Linked DNA regions of Homo sapiens: region 1 is linked to region 2. The links come from fine-mapping of genetic effects on gene expression. A gene starts in region 2. The other region holds a variant in brackets. All regions are shown on one strand. Distances are from middle to middle. Region 1 overlaps WDR82 (WD repeat domain 82). Region 2 holds the start of WDR82 (WD repeat domain 82).

What was found. PIP is the estimated chance that this variant, and not a neighbour inherited with it, causes the effect.
Region 1: its variant is fine-mapped to the expression of WDR82 in whole blood (TOPMed, PIP above 0.99).

The regions. Positions count from the first base shown.
Region 1 is chr3:52,251,288-52,259,448 of GRCh38, forward strand. It overlaps WDR82 (WD repeat domain 82), which reads right to left. Exons shown (of 9, transcript NM_025222.4): 7 at 7,910-7,979; 8 at 7,249-7,391; 9 at 3,147-6,232. The coding sequence ends at 6,203. Among named protein-coding and RNA genes, the nearest start is that of PPM1M, 9.6 kb to the left of the region's middle. RefSeq lists an enhancer at 2,144-2,463. The variant T/C (reference allele first, on the strand shown) is at 4,028.
Region 2 is chr3:52,273,276-52,283,543 of GRCh38, forward strand. It overlaps WDR82 (WD repeat domain 82), which reads right to left and starts at 5,374. Exons shown (of 9, transcript NM_025222.4): 1 at 4,926-5,374. The coding sequence starts at 5,086. LOC107986086 (a long non-coding RNA gene) reads right to left here. Exons shown (of 3, transcript XR_001740699.2): 3 at 9,043-9,656. RefSeq lists enhancers at 4,101-4,733, 4,237-4,286, 4,307-4,386, 4,797-4,896, 5,366-5,997 and silencers at 5,087-5,166, 5,347-5,636.

The DNA of each region.
Region 1 (8,161 bases), 23 kb before region 2:
TTTTTATTTTTTGTAGAGACAGGGTCTGTGTTGCCCAGACTGGCTCAAACTCCTGGATGCAAGTGATAATCCCACCTCAGCCTCTCTGGGATTACAGGCGTGAGCCACCATGCCCAGCCTCCACTACTTGTAGGCTCTGGGCTTGAGATACTGGAAGGGTGGTTTTTTCACTTAAAAAAAAAAATGTAAGGCCAGGCATGGTGGCTCAGACCTGTAATCCCAGCACTTTGGGAGGCCGAAGCAGGCCGATCATGAGGTCAGTTCGAGACCAGCCTGGCCAATATGGTGAAACCCTGTCTCTACTAAAAATACAAAAATTAGCCGGGCATGGTCGCACGTGCCTGTAGTACCAGCTGCCCAGGAGGCTGAGGCAGAATAATCGTTTGAACCTGGGAGGTGGAGGTTGCAGTGAGCTGAGATTGTGCCACTGCGTTCCAGCCTGGGCAACAGAGCGAGACTCCATCTCAAAAAACTAAAAATAAAAAGTAATGAGACAGGGTCTATTTTGCCCAGGATAGTCTCAAACTGCTGGGTTCAAGCAGTCCTCCCAGCCTGTAGCTGGAATTACAGATGTACACTGTGACTTTTTCACTTACTTTTGAATGCAGATTTCTATAAAGCTATAATTAGCTGGATAAAAGTTAGGGCCTTAGGGCTTGCTGTTTAATAAGCAGCTTAGTTCATCTTCTCCAAAAAGACTATGCTGTCATCTTGGCTGGGGCACAGTGGCTCATGCCTGTAATCCCAGGACTTTGGGAGGCTGAAGCAGGTAGATCACTTGAGCTCGGGAGTTTGAGACCATCCTGAACAACATGGTGAAACCCCATCTCTATCAAAAATACAAAAAATTAGTAGGGCATGGTGATATATGCCTGTGGTCCCAGCTACTTGGAAGGCTGAGGTGGGAGGATCACCTGAACCCAGGAGGTGGAGGTTGCAGTGAGGGGAGATTGTGCCACTCCACTCCAGCCTGGACAACACAGTGAGACTCTGTCTCAAAACAAAACAAAACAAACAAAAAAATGGGGCCAGGCCTGGTGGCTCAGGTGTGTCATCCAGCACTTTGGGAGGCTGAGCAGGCAGATCACCTGAGGTCCGGAGTTTGAGACCAGCCTGACCAACATGTTGAAACCCTGTCTCTACTAAAAATACAAAATTAGCCAGGTGTGGTGGCACATGCCTGTAATCCCAGCTACTCGGGAGGCTGAGGCAGGAGAATCGCTTGAACCCGGGAGGCGGAGGTTGCAGTGAGCCAAGATCGCACCGTTGTACTCCAGCCTGGGCAATAAGAGCAAAACTGTCTCAAAAACAAAACAAAACAAAAACAGCCATGCTGTCAACTAGAACGTACCAAAGCTCAAGTGCTCAGGAAGTATCTATTGAATTACAAGGCAAACCACCTTCATGACCTCAGCTTTACTTGACCCTTCTCTGATTTACTCCTACTTTATAATTTAGGTGAATTCTCTCACCAGGCAACTGACAGCCCAAAATTGCAGCCAAGAAGAATATCCAACAGGTCGCAGAGCCAATGGTAAAACCTGTATAATTAACTCAACTGAGAGGCTCTCAGAACCCACCCCACCCCGGCTTTTTTTTTTTTTTTTTTGAGATGGAGCTTCACTCTTGTCGCCCAGGCTGGAGTGTAATGGTGCCATCTCAGCTCACTGCAACCTCTAGCCTCCTGGGTTCAAGTGATTCTCCTGCCTCAGCCTCCTGAACAGTTGGAATTACAGGCACACACCACCACACCCAATATTTTTAGTAGAGATGGGGTTTCATCATGTTGGCCAGCCTGGTCTCAAACTCCTGACCTCAGGTGATCCACCCACCTCGGTCTCCCAAAGTGCTGGGATTACAGGCGTGAGCCACTGCACCCAGCCTCAGACCCCCTTTCCTACCCATTAACTCTAGATTTCATTTCCTACACATTCTCCAGGGAAGACTGGAAAAACTGCATCAGATATTTCCCACTGCTATATTCCACAGTGCAGGACTTCAGGGTTGAACCTGTCCACAGCTAGGCCCTATGGTAGTCTTGCTAGGACTCCTCTAGCCAGGCAGCTTGAGTGCTGTCCTACCAGCCTGTAGGAGTGTCACTTCCTCTTTCCTCACCACAGCCTCCACTACCTCACCACTCCGCCTGAGCAAAAAAAAAAAAAAGGGTGGGCAGCATCCTGTGCCTGCTTCTCTTACCCACATCAACTGCTGAGCCAGCTCGCCCCCACAGCCTGCTTGCCTAGCTTGCTACCATGCCTGCTGTTGTTCCTCACGTCACAAGGCTGAATGAAGCCTGGGGGGTGGGTGAAGTAGGTCTTTCAGTTGCGAGCAGGACAGAGACCAGAGTGGCTGCTCTAAGGGCAGCCATGCTTACCTACTTGTTCATGTCTCCCAGCAGAGCTGAACACGGCAGCAGTCCTCCCACCAGGCCAGGAGGGGGTCTCTTCCTACGTACGTAGTGTCAGAAGAGCCTGTGCATGGCCTGTCACACACAAGCTAGGATGTTCCCTCCGCCACTGTTGCAGAGTCCCATGAGCAATGTGAAAATGTGGCAGGCCCAAGGTTTTCTTCTCTGGTCCAGAGAGGGCGAGGCAAGAGCAGGAAGCAGGTTCTACAGCTCTGAGAATGCTGAGCTAGAGCAGCAGCCTCCAGGCAAATGGGTTACCAAAGCAATTGCCTTCTGCCAGACTGGGTGCTGGGGCCTCAGAGAGACTCCAGTATTCTTGCCTTCCTGAAACCAGGGTCTAGCAGGACAAAACATATTCCAACTAGAGGTTGTCAATCTGGTGAAGGGTTGAGTAAACAGTAGAGGATGCAAGGCAGCCTGAGGTAAGTGCCAGACAGTCTCCGAAGATTCAGGCTGGCTCAGGCTTGCCTTGCCCCGTCAGTCATTGCTGGCTCTATGGCTATTACAGCCTGGGGTTGAAGGCTGGTTCTAGGGGTTCCTCCCACCAGCCCATAAATCTTAGTTACCAAGGGGCAGTCAGAGGCAGTCCCAGGGAGCCCAGCAATCCGTCTACACAGCATTACAGCAAGCTGCAGTGTGAGCCAGAACTAACAGGAGACAACCCAAGCCTCCCTCCAGCTCTGGGAACCAGGCAAACCATGCTACAGAAACTCAAATCGAAGAGGCTGCAGCCATAAAATTCTGTTTAAGACTGTAACATGGAAAAAATGTTTATACGTTAAGTACAAAAGGGACATAAAATTGTATATACAGAATAACGACTATGTAAACACACCAAAAATCTATGCACAGAAATGTCTAGGGGGAACATTTAACACCAAAAGATTAACAGTGGTAGCATTTGGGTGGCAAACTTGATTCTTTCTAAAATTCCCATATTTTCCTTAATAAGCAGTAATTATAATTACAACGGGAAATAATTTCTTTAAGTACCCAGTGCAGTGTCACTGTCAAATAAACATCAGTGGCTTTGGCCCCAATTCTTAAGGTGGCAAACGCCGCTGCCCCACTCCCCACCCATCCCCAATAGGGCTTGAGCACCTGTAGCCCTGCTGAGCACGTCTGTGCAGCCCCAGCCCTCAGCATCTCTTCCACTCGCTTCCAGCTATATCTTTTCCCTTTCCTTCTTAATTCAGGAGGCAGCTTTGCAACCACAGGGCCCAACGATAGAGACTGTGAGGTGGCATTTTTTTTTTTTTTTTTTTGAGACGGAGTTTTGCTGTTGTTGCCCAGGCCGGAGTGCAATGGCACGATCTCAACTCACCGCAACCTCCGCCTCCTGGGTTCAAGCAATTCTCCTGCCTCAGCCTCCCAAGTAGCTGAGATTATAGGCGCATGCCACCACGCCCGGCTAATTTTGTATTTTTAGTAGAGATGGGGTTTCTCCATGTTGGTCAGGCTGGTCTCAAACTCCCGACCTCCGGTGATCCGCCCGCCTCGGCCTCCCAAAGTGCTGGGATTACAGGTGTGAGCCACCGCGCCCAGCCTTGAGGTGGCATGTTTTCAAAGAACATGGTGCTCAGTTTTGGACACACAGGAACTCAAATACAATCATTTTCC[T/C]GCTGCTAAGTAATGCTTGGTGGCTGCTCTGGTTGCAGATATGTGAAGTTAGGTAGCCTTTCCTGTTAACCCATGGTTCCAAGCACTCTCTCTTAACAATCATTCCTACTGTGAATTTTCTACCCGGAAAAGCCAGGGGTGGGCAATAACAATTAAGATCATTTGGTTTCTAAAAGTTCTTCCTCTCTGGGAAAGCAGAACTATACAGTGGGTGGCATCCTGCAGATTCTAGTCTACATTTGGGAAAGGTGTACGCCTCTTGCACTTTCAGAGGAACAAGTCAAAAAGTAATTGCTTAAAAAAAAAAAGTGCTAGCAATTCACAGCCTATTCCTGCCCGCTGAACAGAAATTGTGATGCCTTGATTTACCCCCTAGCAGCTACATATTCTTGAGCAAGTCATAACCCTATTGTGCCTCAGTTTCTGGATCTGCAAGGAGTGTTGCCTGCATAAATGTTTGTTTAGGAACTTAGTAAAATGACATACTCCTCTCTCTGCTCTAAGAAGGCCATGAGCCAGCTGCAGCTCATCTCACTCAGCCTGGGCCTGACCAGAGTCCTTTCCTCTTCCAAGAGAAAGCAAGGAAAAGCAGCAAGCAAGCAGACATACCAGGTCAACAGGAGTGATCTATCATTGGCAACGAGGCCTCAAACAAACTGCAAATGCTCTGGCTTCAGCACCTTATCCCCAAATGCCACAAACCAGACATGGAAGCCATGCAAGAGTGACTATCACACACACACACAGGCACAGACAGAGTACCACCAAGCAAAAAGGGGGCTAATACTGCAGAGATGGCCCCAAAGTGCAGCTTGAGGAACACAGCAAGTCATCCCAAGACCCTCACTTAGCTGCCAAAGAAACAGCAAACACTATCAGCTTTGCTTCAGTCTTCTGAAATGAAAATATTAATAAGGAAGACTCACTAATACTTGTGGCAAACACTATTAGCAGGGATGCAGGGTGTCTCCTGGGCTGCAGGACTCCATCTGCTTCAGCTGAACTCTTGGAAACTACAGATGAGAGATATATGCATACGCACACACATATATGCGTATCTGTATGCACACAGATGTATTTAAATGAAGGTGCATACACTGTGCTAAAATACAAACAACAGAAATCAAAGGTCATATATAAAAACGCTAAATATGACATATAACACAGGCCTAGAACCAGCTCTTGGTTGGGAGCTGGGGAAAGGGGTGGTATCATCTGAAGACTATGTACACAATTTGTGGTGGGCAGGGAAGGCATCAGTGTAAACAACTCAGACTCACTTCACAATACTGGCCCACAGGTAAGTGTGATGTATCTCATGTACAAAAATAGACTCCCACCTTGCTTTTGTACAAACCAAGCTTGGTAGGCACCCAGGAGGACCGTGGGTTTGTCTTGATGACAGGGCACTGCACCAGGCTGCTGCTAAACCTTCCAGCCCTAGGAACTCACCTGCTACCCTCCCGCTACCCTCCCCTTTCCCTCCCTTTCAGGCCCTTGGGTCTTTTTCCCACCCAACACCTACAGCCCGAGGCCTGCCCAACCACCTAGCCTCACACGACTAACTGCAGAAACTAACTGCATGGCTTCCTGCAAGCAAGGTCCTTCTGTATCTGTCCCTTTCTCTGACCCCAAGATATATGAAAATGTTTCTGTAAATGTTTGGCACCTAAGAAACATGATGGTTGTGGATAATGCCACAAGTACACAGGGAGACCCAGTAACAAGACATGCAGGGTGAGGGCAAGCGGCTGAGCTGCCCAAGCATTTCAAAACCAGGACTTTGGCTTCCCATGCAGTTGGAGGGTAGAAGGGATGTGCGGAACTGATGACTTCACCGGCTCCTCAGCAGCATGTACATTCAAATTGAAGATGCTTGAGAGCCCCACTATACCAAATCGTGAGTCTGGTCACTCCTCCAGCAGAGCTTGGTGCAGTGACAGTTAGAAAAGCTGAGTTCCAATTGAGTCTGTTGCACCAAGAGTCCTTTTGAAGACGCTCATCAAAGTAATTATTTTCTTTTGAGCAGATGTACAGCACATCCATGGGAAGGCCATGTAAAAGGATGTTCTCCAGCCCAGTCAAATGATCCAATCCCACTATTATCTCAGTTCCCTCTGAGTTTCTTCCTGCTGGCCGCCCTCACTATACAGAAATAGCCAAGCAGCAACAGGGTCAGTCATCAATGGTGGGCAACCAAAAGGCCTAGAAGGAGAACATAAATCAACTTTAAAAAGCCAAGCATCTCCTCACTGCCAACGGTTCTTCACATCCCACCCCACAGCAAAAATGTGCCCAACCCCAGTGGCTCTGGTAGCCCTCTCTCCTAACCAACCAACCCCGATGCTCTAAGGAGACAGAAACACTCTTTCCTCTATGTGAAAGTAAAATGGTTCTGTTTTTCTCCAATAATCACTGTCCACCTTCCACCAAAGCAGACCCCCCGCCCCCTTTTTTTTAAAGGAAGGGAAAAAAAGGAGTGCTGCCTGGGAGGTGGGTGAATAAGTAACCTGTCCTCATTGCTAATCCACCAGGTTACCTCCAACAGGCCCCCACCTTCCTGGGCTGTAAAAAGTAAGGAACTGGATGGTTTTGCTGTATTTTTTCTAACATTTTTTTCTTGGTTAAAAAAAAAAAGCAAGGTGGCAATGTGCTCCGGGTAGGCTAGTAATGAAATGTCTCATCCCCGAATACCCAGGCAGGTTTAGGAGATCACAAGGGAAAACTGGAGCTGAGACTCACTGATCCTTTGTTCTGTTAGTATTATCTAGGAAGAGATAAGGGCCTGGAGTTAATTCTAAGTGGTGAGTTATGACCAACTGTAGAAATTTCTGGGAATTTGGCGTAAACCAACAGGAATGGAAAACTGAAACCACAAAAGGCCGGTTCAGAGTATTTTAAGGAGCAAAAAAATTGCCAAGCATAGCCCAGGTAGTTTGGACCTAAAATTAGGGTCCAGAGCAAAAACTGGCCTATGATCTCCTTGGAACTCAAAGATGATTCCTGATCACCTCTAGGAAGAATAAAAATGAAAGGCAAGACCAGCCCAGCCAGAGATCAAATAATAGGAGATGAAATAGGGAAACCACCAGTTGAGAAACATGTACTTGGATGCTTGTAATGTACCTATGTAGAACACAGCTTGCTGTGCTTGTTGAGGCACCCACCACCCCAACTGGGAAGGGTCCCTGAGTAGCAGATACCTCTTACTGTTCACATACCATGTTGGAACACGCACTGGCAAAAGTCATGAACTTGGGGTTGAATTGCAAACAGGTAATCGGGCCTGTGTGTTTACCATCCAACACAGCTACTTTTATACCGCTCTCTCCATTCCAGACATGGATCTTGCCATCCTCTGAACCTAAAGAGGATATTCACGGAAAATGTAACAGCTCAAGGCGCAATACAAAGACAACTGGAAATGAGACATGGATTGAGATCTGAGGATACGCCAAGCTTTAGGACCCATCCCTCAGGCAAAATTGAGAGGGAGGAGAGGCAGTGAAGGAAGGACACTTTGGAAATTTATCTTGACCCTAGCTATTTGTTCACAGGCATGTCACTTCCGTTCTAACTTCAGTTTTCTCATCTAAAAAAGGGGCCGAATACCATTACCCTACCAACAGGCAGCCACTAAGATGACTGAATGTAGGGTTACACCAGGACATTAGCATTACTAATAAGGTAGTGCTTGTGGAGTTTAACTCAAATTTTGGTCCAGTCAGGGCAGTTAAAAGACACTATGTCCTTGGCATAATGTGCTATACAGAAATCTAAGAACATCTATCAAATAGATAATAATGTCTCAGTTAATAATTTAAACAAAGAAATGCATAGTACCAGAGAAATAACCCCCACAGGGGATAAAAGGAAACTCACCAATCATAATAAACTGAGAGTCTGGAGTAAATGAAGCCTCCAGTGTGACAGCTTTGCTGTTGGCATAACCCTAAAACAAAACAGAGCAGTTCTTTTGTTCTTACAGAGCCATTAATAAAAACAGCTGCCTACAAACACTGACTCAGCACATGCATCACCTTCCTTTCCATGAAACCCTTTCCTTGTCATGTACTACACCACCAAGCTTCCAAATGTGGTTGCCATCGTTGACAATCCACTCCCACCCTCAAC
Region 2 (10,268 bases):
AAAAAATTAGCCAGGTGTGGTGGTGGGCACCTGTAATCCCAGTTACTTGGGAGGCTGAGGTAGGAGAATCACTGGAACCCGGGACATGGAGGTTGCATTGAGCCAAGATCGCGCCATTGTACTCCGACCTGGGCAACAAGAGCGAAACTCCGTCTTAAAAAAAAAAAAAGACAGAACATGAAGAGCCAACTCTAACTTGACAAGTTGAAAGAGAATAGTGTAAGGAAAATTTCTGGTTCCACTTAGATCTGGTCTATTTGTCTCAAATTTATCAAAAACACTAACCTGAGATTTTTTTTCCTGATAACAGAAATCTACTGCCTCATTTCATTTCCCAATTTGATTTTTATTATTTTTATGTTTTTGAGACATTCTCGCTCTGTTACCCTGGCTGGAGTGCAGAGGCACGATCTCGGCTCACTGCAACCTCTGCGTCCCCGGTTCAAGCAATTCTCCCTGCCTCAGCCTCCTGAGTAGCTGGGATTACAGGCCCCTGCCACCAGGCTCAGCTAATTTTTGTATTTTTCTGTATAGACAAGGTTTCACCACATTGTCCAGGCTGGTTTTGAACTCCTGACCCAGGCGATCCACCCGCCTCGGCCTCCCAAAGTGCTGGGATTACAAGTGTGAGCCACCACACCTGGACTCATTTCCTAACTTGAAAGCAAGATTATACTGTACTGCATCCATGTGGGTCTTACAAAATACATGCACAACATTTTTCAAATATTTTGGTAAGCTTCCTTCCTCAAACTATAATTCTGGTGATCAAGCATCAACAAGGAAAATAATATTAACCTTTCACTTTGAGTAATTTGCTTCACCTACCACAAACAATATCCTTTATACTCTTCCAAATTGAAATATCACTCAATGGGCGAACTCCATTGTAAAGAAAATTTAAATGACCAGTAAACTGGAAAATACTAAGCACACAAAATCTTGCTTTAGCCATTTTCAAACTCCCAAATTCTAACACTAGGGTCATCTAATAAAGATACTATGCCTTCGGCCGGTCACAGTAGCTAACACCTGTAATCCCAGCACTTTGGGAGGCCTAGGTGAGAGGATCGCTTGAGTTCAGGAGTTTGAGACCAGCCTGGGCAACCTGGTGAGAACTTGTCTCCACTAAAAATAAAAATAGCCAAGTAAGTTGGCGAGTGCTTGTAGGCCCAACTACTTTGGAGATTGAGGTGGGAAGATCACTTGAGCCCAGAAGATGAAGGCTTTAGTGAACTATAAGCATGCTATTGCACTCCAGCCTGAGCAACAGGGGAAGACCTTTGTCTTAACAACAAACAAACAAAAAAACAAAACAAAACAAAACAAAAAAACAGGGCCGGGTGCGGAGGCTCACATATGTAATCCCAGCACTCTGGGAGGCCGAGGAGACCGAGGTGGGCAGATCACTTGAGGTAAGATGTTGAGACCAACATGGCCAACATTGTGAAACCCCATTTCTACTAAAAATACAAAAATTAGCAGGCACACTGATGGGTGCCTGTAATCCCAGCTACTCGGGAGGCTGAGGCACGAGAATCGCTTGAATCCAGCAGCGAGGTTGCAGCAGTGAGCCAAGATTACGCCACTGCACTCCAGCCTAGGAAAGAGTGAGGCAGTCTCAAAAACAAAACAAAACAAAACAAACAAACAAACAAAAAGAAAGGCCGGGCGCAGTGGCTCATGCCTGCAATCCCAGCACTTTGGGAGGCCGAGGCGGCGGATCACCTGAGGTCGGGAATTCGAGACCAGCCTGACCAACATGGAGAAATCCCGCATCTACTAAAAATACAAAATTAGCCAGGTGTGGTGGCGCATGCCTGTAATCCCAGCTACTCAGGAGGCTGAGGCAGGAGAATCGCTTGAACTCGGGAGGCGGAGGTTGCAGTGAGCCGAGATGGAGCCACTGCACTCCAGCCTGGGCAACAAGAGCGAAAGTCCCTATCAAAAAAATAAATAAATAAAAGATACAATACCATGCCTTCCCAAGGAAATACTTCTTTTCTTCTGAGGTCGGTTTGACCTATACTAGTGACAAAATTTTTCATCATATTATTGCCTAGAATGGAAACTAAAGAGGTTGTCTAATACCCAAAGAAGTAATCTGACCAATGTCACATACCTAGTCACAGGCCAAACTAGTACCCAGTTCCCTCCTAACTACCAGGCCACTCCTTCACCACAGATAATGAAACAAGGTTACAATTAATTGATCAGAGAAAACTCAAGAGCATGCCCTGTAGTATTGTATCAGTACTAAATTTCCTAATTTGGATAACTGTGCTCTGGTTACATAAGAATGTCTTTGTGCTTAGAAAATCCACGTTGAGCCGGGCGCAGTGGCTCATGCCTGGAATCCCAGCACTTTGGGAGGCTGAGGCGGGTAGATCACGAGATCAGGAGTTCAAGACCAGCCTGACCAACATGGTGAAACCCTGCCTCTACTAAAGATACAAAAATTAGCCAGGCATGGTGGCATGCACCTGTAATCCCAGCTACTCAGGAGGCTGAGGCAGGAGAATCGCTTGAACCCAGGAGCCGGAGGTTGCAGTGAGCCAAGATCACGCCACTGCACTCCAGCCTGGGCGACTGAGCGAGACTCCATCTCAAAAAAGAAAGAAAATCCATGTTGAAGTGTTTAGGGATAAAGGGGCTTGATACCTCCAACTCTAAAGGTGGGGGGAGGCACACAGTACATATAAATATTTACCTACAGTCATGAAGCAAATGCAGAAAATGTAACCAGTTATTGAATCATATGGGAGTTCTTTGAAACACTGTAACTTTGTTAGTTTCTAATTATGTAAAAATGCTACGAGTAAATAAACTGCCTTATGTCACAAAACTAGCATTTTACTTTTAACAAGACAGGATTTGGCCAGGCACAGCAGCTCATGCCTATAATCCTAGCACTTTGGAAGGCCAAGGCGGGTGGATCACTTGAGGTCAGGAGTTCAAGACCAGTCTGGTCAACATGGTGAAACCCCATCTCTACTAAAAATACAAAAGTTAGGGTATGGTGGCAGGCGCCTGTAATCCCAGCTATTTGTGAGGGTGAGGCAGGAGAATCGCTTGAACCCGGGAGGCAGAGGTTGCAGTGAGCCAAGATCGCGCCACTACACTCCAGCCTGGGCGACGGAGAGAGACTCCGTCCCCCACCCGAAAAAAAAAAACAAAAAAAAGAAAGACAGGACTTCATGTCAAGGTCATCCTTCCCAAATCAAAATTACGCCAAATTTGGGGACAAACTGCAAAGAAATGCTATAACAACCTTCATTTCCTTTAAATGAGGATATACATCTCCACCCTCAGGTTCTGGGAAGAGGTTCTAATCTGTGCATAAGCACTATACATTTCATGCAAGCCAGCTTCAAATTACTCCTCCAGGACCCCACAATGCTGACCCTACTACCACACCTTTAAATGTTACTTCGTCTTCTAAACTGATTCAAGTGACCAGACCAGGACAGAAATCCATCTACTCAATGAGTAACACTGACTCAAATAACTATTTGTCCAGCTAACAATTCCCTCTTCCTTAAGACCACCACTGCAGACCACTCTGCCACAAACTGCAGGCAGATCCAGAGCCGGTTACATAATACTTTCTCACAGCCCCAGTGGGGAAAAAAACTGGGGGGATACCATTATAGCTCAGTCCAAACTAGCATTACTTCAGATAATCAAATTCACAAATGAAGAGATATGTTCCAAAAGAAGGACACCAGTCTAAAAAAAAAAAAAGGAAAAAGGAACAGCTGGAGAAGGTGGAGAAAAACCCAAGATCTCAAATAATAATAATAATAATAATAATAATAATAATAATATCTGTTACTAGGTGACAAAATCAAGTCTGAAAAAACCAGGGTCCACCGAATTAAACCAAACATCAGCAAGCCTTCTTGGGGAAGGTGGCTAAGGGTAAAACGAATTTAATCTAAACTAGTTTTTGGCTCCAAGGAGCTGCAAGTCCACAGGCGTGCGGTGAGGAGGGCTGACAAGGACCCCCAGGGAAAAAGGCAAAGTGCTGTGCTTAGATTTTGCGAAAAGATGCAGGTATGGTGGGTCTCCAGATGACTTGTGGCAACATAAAAGTTTCATGATCAGAATTGGAATTCAAAGTGGACCAAAAAGTGTAATAGAAAAAAAAAAGTATGAAAGGAAACCTGAAATTGTTCTACGATGCTTGCTTTGTTTTAACGGAAGCTCACATTCAGGTCAGGATGGGACGACCAAGTTCGTTTGTGTGTGGCAAAAAGGAAGTTTTAGATGTTGCTGAAAAGTTCACTTATGAACGTGGGCACCAAGTCTGAATGAGTAAGAGAAAGGCTAGGAGCAGGAAGAAAAAGCAAGGGGGCTCAAAGGGGCACAACAAATAAATCCTGACAGCTAAGAAGTGCAACCCACGCGGTCTGACGGCAGAAAGGCCGCGGGAAGCTGAGGGGCAGGGGATGGGCGGAGTGCCAGGGCGGAATCGAGGTCACAGTGGAGAGAGCACAAGAGAGAGCTGACGCTGCCGAAGGAGGCAGAAAAGCAGCCCCTGCAGTCCTGCGTCGAGGCCGGAGCAGACCAGCACCTTTGACAGCCTGAGGAGCTGAAAACGCTACCTGGTGGGCCCAGGGTGGGCGGACCGGGCGTTTAAAGGTCAAGGTCAAGGTGGGGTTTGGCAAGTGATGCATAGCGCTCAAAGGAGACCGAAGACATACAAATAATATTATAAAATTATGACTATCGTTATCTTTTTTTTTTAAGAAGAAAAAAATAAAAGGTCTCCTGGACGGCTGCGGGGTGGAGGCGGCCCTGGCAGGAACGCGTGCAAAATAGGCTGGGGGCTGAAGTCGGGACGGAGGGCAGGCCGAGGGACCTGTGCTGGGCCACCGGAGGGAGGCACTGAGACTCGGGCCCAGGGCCTCCGCCGCACTCACTTGCCCTCCTGGCAGTCATAGAGCACGATGGAGTCGTCGTCGCTACTCGAGATGACCGTCTCGCCGTTGGGGCTGAAATCGAAGCAGTTAATCTTGTCCGAGTTTTCGCGGAACACCTTAGCGACGCGGAAGCTCCGCAACACGCTGTCGGTCAGCTTCATGGCGGCGGCTGGGGAAGGCAGCGGCGGCGCAGGGCCGGGGCGGGGCCCGGCGGCGAGCGGGCGGGCTGCCGAGGGGCCAACCCAGGCGGGGCGGGCGCCGCGCCGGCGGCTAGCGGGAAGTCGGCCAACAGTTGGGCCGCCTCCTCCTCTTCTTCCTGCTTGGTCGAGGGTCTTCTGCCTGGACTGTGGAGCCTCGCCGACCGTTCGTCCTCACAGCCACCTCACGGACAACCGGCGCGTCGCCGGCTCATTGTGTCCGCCATTTTGGGGCGACAGGCAGAAGCTGAGGGCGAGGAGCCTCAGCCGCGGCGCACGCCGGGAAAGGGGGCGGGGCGGGAACGGCGGAGCAAGGCGGGGAGGCGGGGTGGTGACGTCAGCGCGGCCGCGGCGGAGTGTAGTGGCGGGGCGGGCTGCTGGCAGGGAGCGGCCGAGACGTGCAGGGCCTTCCCGGGGGATCGGAAGGTTGCGGATGCCTTGGGAGCCGGGGGCCCTTGCGCGGGATTGCAACCCCCGCGAAGACTCTGGCGCCTCCTGCAGGCGTCCCGATCGCAGGCTGCGTGGGAGGGGGTACTGCAGGGTCGGGTATGCTGCTGGAGGCCGGTTTTGGGGGTGACTCAGGTGAGCCGCTCGCAGGCAAGCTTGACCGCTAGTCCACCGCAGCGTCCGCTTAGACAGCTTCGACCTCTTTACTTTTTTTTTTTTTTTTGGAGATGGAGTCTCTCGCTCAGGCGCGCGCCACCACGCCCAGCTAATTTTGTATTTTTGGTAGAGACGGGGGTTCACCATGTTGGCCAGGCTGGTCTCGAACTCCTGACCTCACCCGCACCCGGCCTCGTTTTCTTAATCGAGGTAGACTTTAGGTACAGTAAAAATCAGCCTTTTTAGGCCGGGCGCGGTGGCTCACGCCTTTAAACCCACCACTTTGGGAGGCCGAGGCGGGATGATCGCTTGAGCTCAGGAGTTGAGACCAGCCTGGCCAACATGACAAAACCCCACCTCTACTAAAATACAAAAAATTAGCCGGGCATGATGGCGCGGCTGAGGCACGAGAATTGAGAAAGGCGGAGGCTGCAGTGCGCCGAAATCGTGCCACTGCATTCCAGGCTGGGCGACAGAGCAGACGGTTTCCCCCCAAAAATTAGCCTTTTTAGTGGCTAGTTTTATGTTCTGACACCCATACACAGTCATGCAGTCACCACCACATTCAAGATTTGGAAGAGTTGCACTATCCTGTTTGTAGTCAACAGGATTATTTTAAAGGTTCTATCATATAAGTGATTATTTGCCTTAAAAGAAAGTTTATCTCTAACAAAGGAAAGCAGTATTTGAACAGAAAATAGGAACCAAGCTTCCTAACCTTAACTTTCTGGGCAAGGGGTTAAACTCAATGCCAACCTATGTGGCTTCACAGATCTGTATCTTGTGTGAAGCTCCTCAAAAGGTTAATTGCCTGGGGTTTCCAACAATGAAGATGGGGATTATTTATTTTTGCTTTCTTTAGCTAAAGAGAAACAAAAACGAGGAAAGGCTGTGAGACATTTCAGTCGCTATTAGGAAGGTTATTATCCAGAGACCTGTGCAATGGTAAAAAACAAAATGGAAACCCTGGGACAGTTGGGGTCTTTCTAGAAAGAACTAGAGGCTGTATCCCAACCCCCTGGGTAAAAGGAGAGCCAGGATCCTTATACATAAAGAGAAGTTGTTCTCTAAGGGAAGAGGCAAGTTCCTGGCTAAGTCTGGGGTATAATTGCCTCCTGACAAAGAGCAGAGCTTCTGGCTACAATTTGTTCTGGGGTCTGGAAAAAGCCGGTTTGAGTGAAACCTGAATAGATGGCAACTTTCCAAACTGCACACAATGGAAGAAAAACCCTCCACGTCCCAGATCACTTGCTCTGCTTCCCTGTAATTCCTGTGCCTTTATTTCAGAAGCTAGAAAGTCTGATACAGCGTCTGCTTCGAATAGTTTAGAAGGCAACAAGGACAGATCGAGTACCATGTTCTAGAACTGTCGGGAAGTGAACACACCCAGTAAGATGATGCCATATTTTGGTCCATGTTAATCTACAAAAATAACCACAGAAACAGCTGTAATCTACTGAATGTTGCCAGCCAAAATAAATCTTTGCAGGGTATTTTTCAAGTATTGTACTTCCTATACCTTTTCCAGATTTCACCGTTAAGACCAAACCTTCCTCCCAAGACTTGACTTTCTGCATTATTTTTGGAATGCAGTCTTTTTTTTTTTCCCCCATTTTTAAGAGGGTCTTCAAATCCTCATCCTGTTTCGCATTCTTACTGTTTCCAATTCCTAGCCTGGCTCCCTGCCCTATTATAGTGGGGCTCTCCTGGCTTCCAGCCCAACAGTATGGTTGCCTTAAAGGATGGACTTTAGGCCAGGTGCGGTGGCACTTTGGGAGGCCGAGGTGGGTAGATCACAAGGTCGGGAGTTCAAAACCAGCCTGGCCAAAATGGTGAAACCCTGTCTCTATTAAAAATACAAAAATTAGCTGGGCACAGTGGCGGGCACCTGTAATCCCAGCTACTTGGGAGGCTGAGGCAGGAGAATCGCTTGAATCCGGGAGGCAGAGGTTGTAGTGAGCCGAGATCACACCACTGCACTGGGCATTAGAGCAAGACTCCGTCTCAAAAAAAAAAAAAAAATGGACTTTAAAAAGTGACACAGAAAGCCGGCTCCAGTGGATGGGTGGATGGAGAGAAAGCTGCAGTCAAGAGTGAATCAGATGGGCTTTAAAAGAGCATCAGACTTAATTTTTTATGTTTCCTTTTATTTGTAGTCATTCTTTTACTTGTCACATATTCATTGCAAAAAAACTAAAAAATACAAATAATAAAAACAGCATCCAGAGATAGCCACTGTTACAATCTTTTATTATAGTGAAATATATATAACACGAAATTTACCATTTTGATGTAGAACCTTTCCGATTTTTTCATATACATATATATATATATATATATTTTTTTTTTTTTTTTTTTTTTTTTTTTCCTGCTCTGTCACCCAGACTGGAGTGCAGTGGCGTGCTCTCAGCTCACTGTAACCTCCATGTCCTGGGTTCAAGTGATTCTCCTGCCTCAGCCTCCTATAGATGCCCGCCACCACGCCCAGCTAATTTTGTATTTTTAGTACAGACGAGGTTTTATCATGTTGGCCTGGCTGGTCTTGAACTGCTGACCTCAGGTGATCTGCCTGCCTCACCATCCCAAAGTGCTGGGATTACAGGCATGAGCCACCACACCCAGCCAATCCCTGAAATATATTTTTATTGGGTTCATAATATATTGTTTGTAAGTTTACCCATACTATGAACATATTCCAGGTCAATAAATATCGATACAATCATTTTGAATGGCTACAAACTATTCTATTATATGGCTGTAAAGTAATTTTGCTTCCCATTTTGTCCAGAGCCCAGCCAGAGCTCAGTATGGATTAATTGAATAAATGAATTTATCCAAAGGATTCCAGATACTTGATTGGCCCACTTATTAAATTTTTCTATTTCATGCTGCACAATTGGAATGGAAACTGTCCTAAACAATGTGTCCTCTTTCCAAAACACAGAGCTCCTTATGAATTCTAATTCTTTGAGATAAATTTCTGAGCTCCAGTGCCCAGCAGCAGGGCTTCCCTAGAGATTGACTAACGTCTTACTCAACCCTTGGAATAACTAGAATCAGGTGACTCTCTTCTTTGGGACAGTTGCATGTGTGTAAGTGTGACAGTGTGTGTGTGTATCAGTGCTTACACAGCCCTCGGAATAACTAGAATCAGGTGACTCTCTTCTTTGGGACAGTTGAGTGTGTGTGTGTGTGAGCTTAATTGCCAAAGAGGAAACGCAGAACACTAGAACACAAAATGCCTGGTGAGGTGTCTGAGCCCCAGCACCAGGAAGTGGTCGCCTCACAGGTTGGCAAAAAATTTACTGACAACAGTATAGGTTTGAAAAAGGAAAATTTCTTAGAAAGAAAGAACGCTGCAGAAGAGTGCAGCGGGGCACCCCAGCGAGAGGACTGAGGGCCTTGGTGGATTTTCCTTAGGTGCATTTATGGACCTTCAGGCAGGAGCTTAGGGTTGTAAAATTAGTTTCAGCATGACATTCCAGAGATGCCTAGAAATTTTAGTTACTTATAAAAGTTGAAAGAGGCCTGGAACCAGATGCCCACTTTAGATACTAGGGAAGTTTAATTACTTCTAATTTCCCCAGATAAGGAGTTTTGCCTCTGGATGGCCTGTTGGATGGTTACCAGGTGGTCTTTGCTCCCTTCTAAATTCCTCAGATAAGGGCCAGGCACAGTGGCTCATGCCTGTAATCCCAGCACTCTGGGAGGCCAAGGTGGGTGAATCACTTGAGGTCAGGAGTTCAAGACCAGCTTGGGCAGCATGGTGAAACTGCGACTCCACCAAAAAATACAAAAATTAGCCAAGCATGGTGGTGTGCGCCTGTAGTCCCAGCTACTCGGGAGGCTGAGGCAGGAGAATTGCTTGAACCCGGGAGGCGGAGGTTGCAGAGCCGAGATCGCACTCCAGCCTGGGCGATAGAGTGAAACTCTGTCTCAAAAAAAAAAGAAAGAAAAAAAATAAATATTACAAGGATGAAGTAAGCCATTTTTATTTAGACAGAATTTAAGTGTGTGCATGGAAAATCTTGTGGGATATACATGAATATGACCAGAAATAATAAATAAATTTAGTTACTAATGTATGTCCACTTCTACTGGAATTCCTCAGAGAGGTCTTGAGACTCCAGGACCGGGGGCCTGGATAAAAAGAAAGTATCTTTCCCTGGCAGCAGGACTAACTACCCAATTTGTAGGGCCCCTTGTTAAAAAATTGCTAAGAATCTCAAGATGACAACAACAGAATATTAAATGAAGTGCAGGGTCCTTCTGACTATACAAGTCACACACCCATGAAGCTGGCTCAACCCAGGACTAGTACAGCAACAACACTGAGCCTTTCTACATGCACTGGAAACATACTGTGATGAAGACTCTGAAGTTCTGAGAGGTTAACTTTCTCAGGGTCACTTAACCAATAAGCACTGAAGTCTGGATTCACACTCTGCTTCAGCACTGGAAAGCTTGTGTTCTGTTTCCAGGGCAAAGGACAAGAAATCATTCACATTTAACAAAGACCACTGTCGGTAAATAATACCTTCTT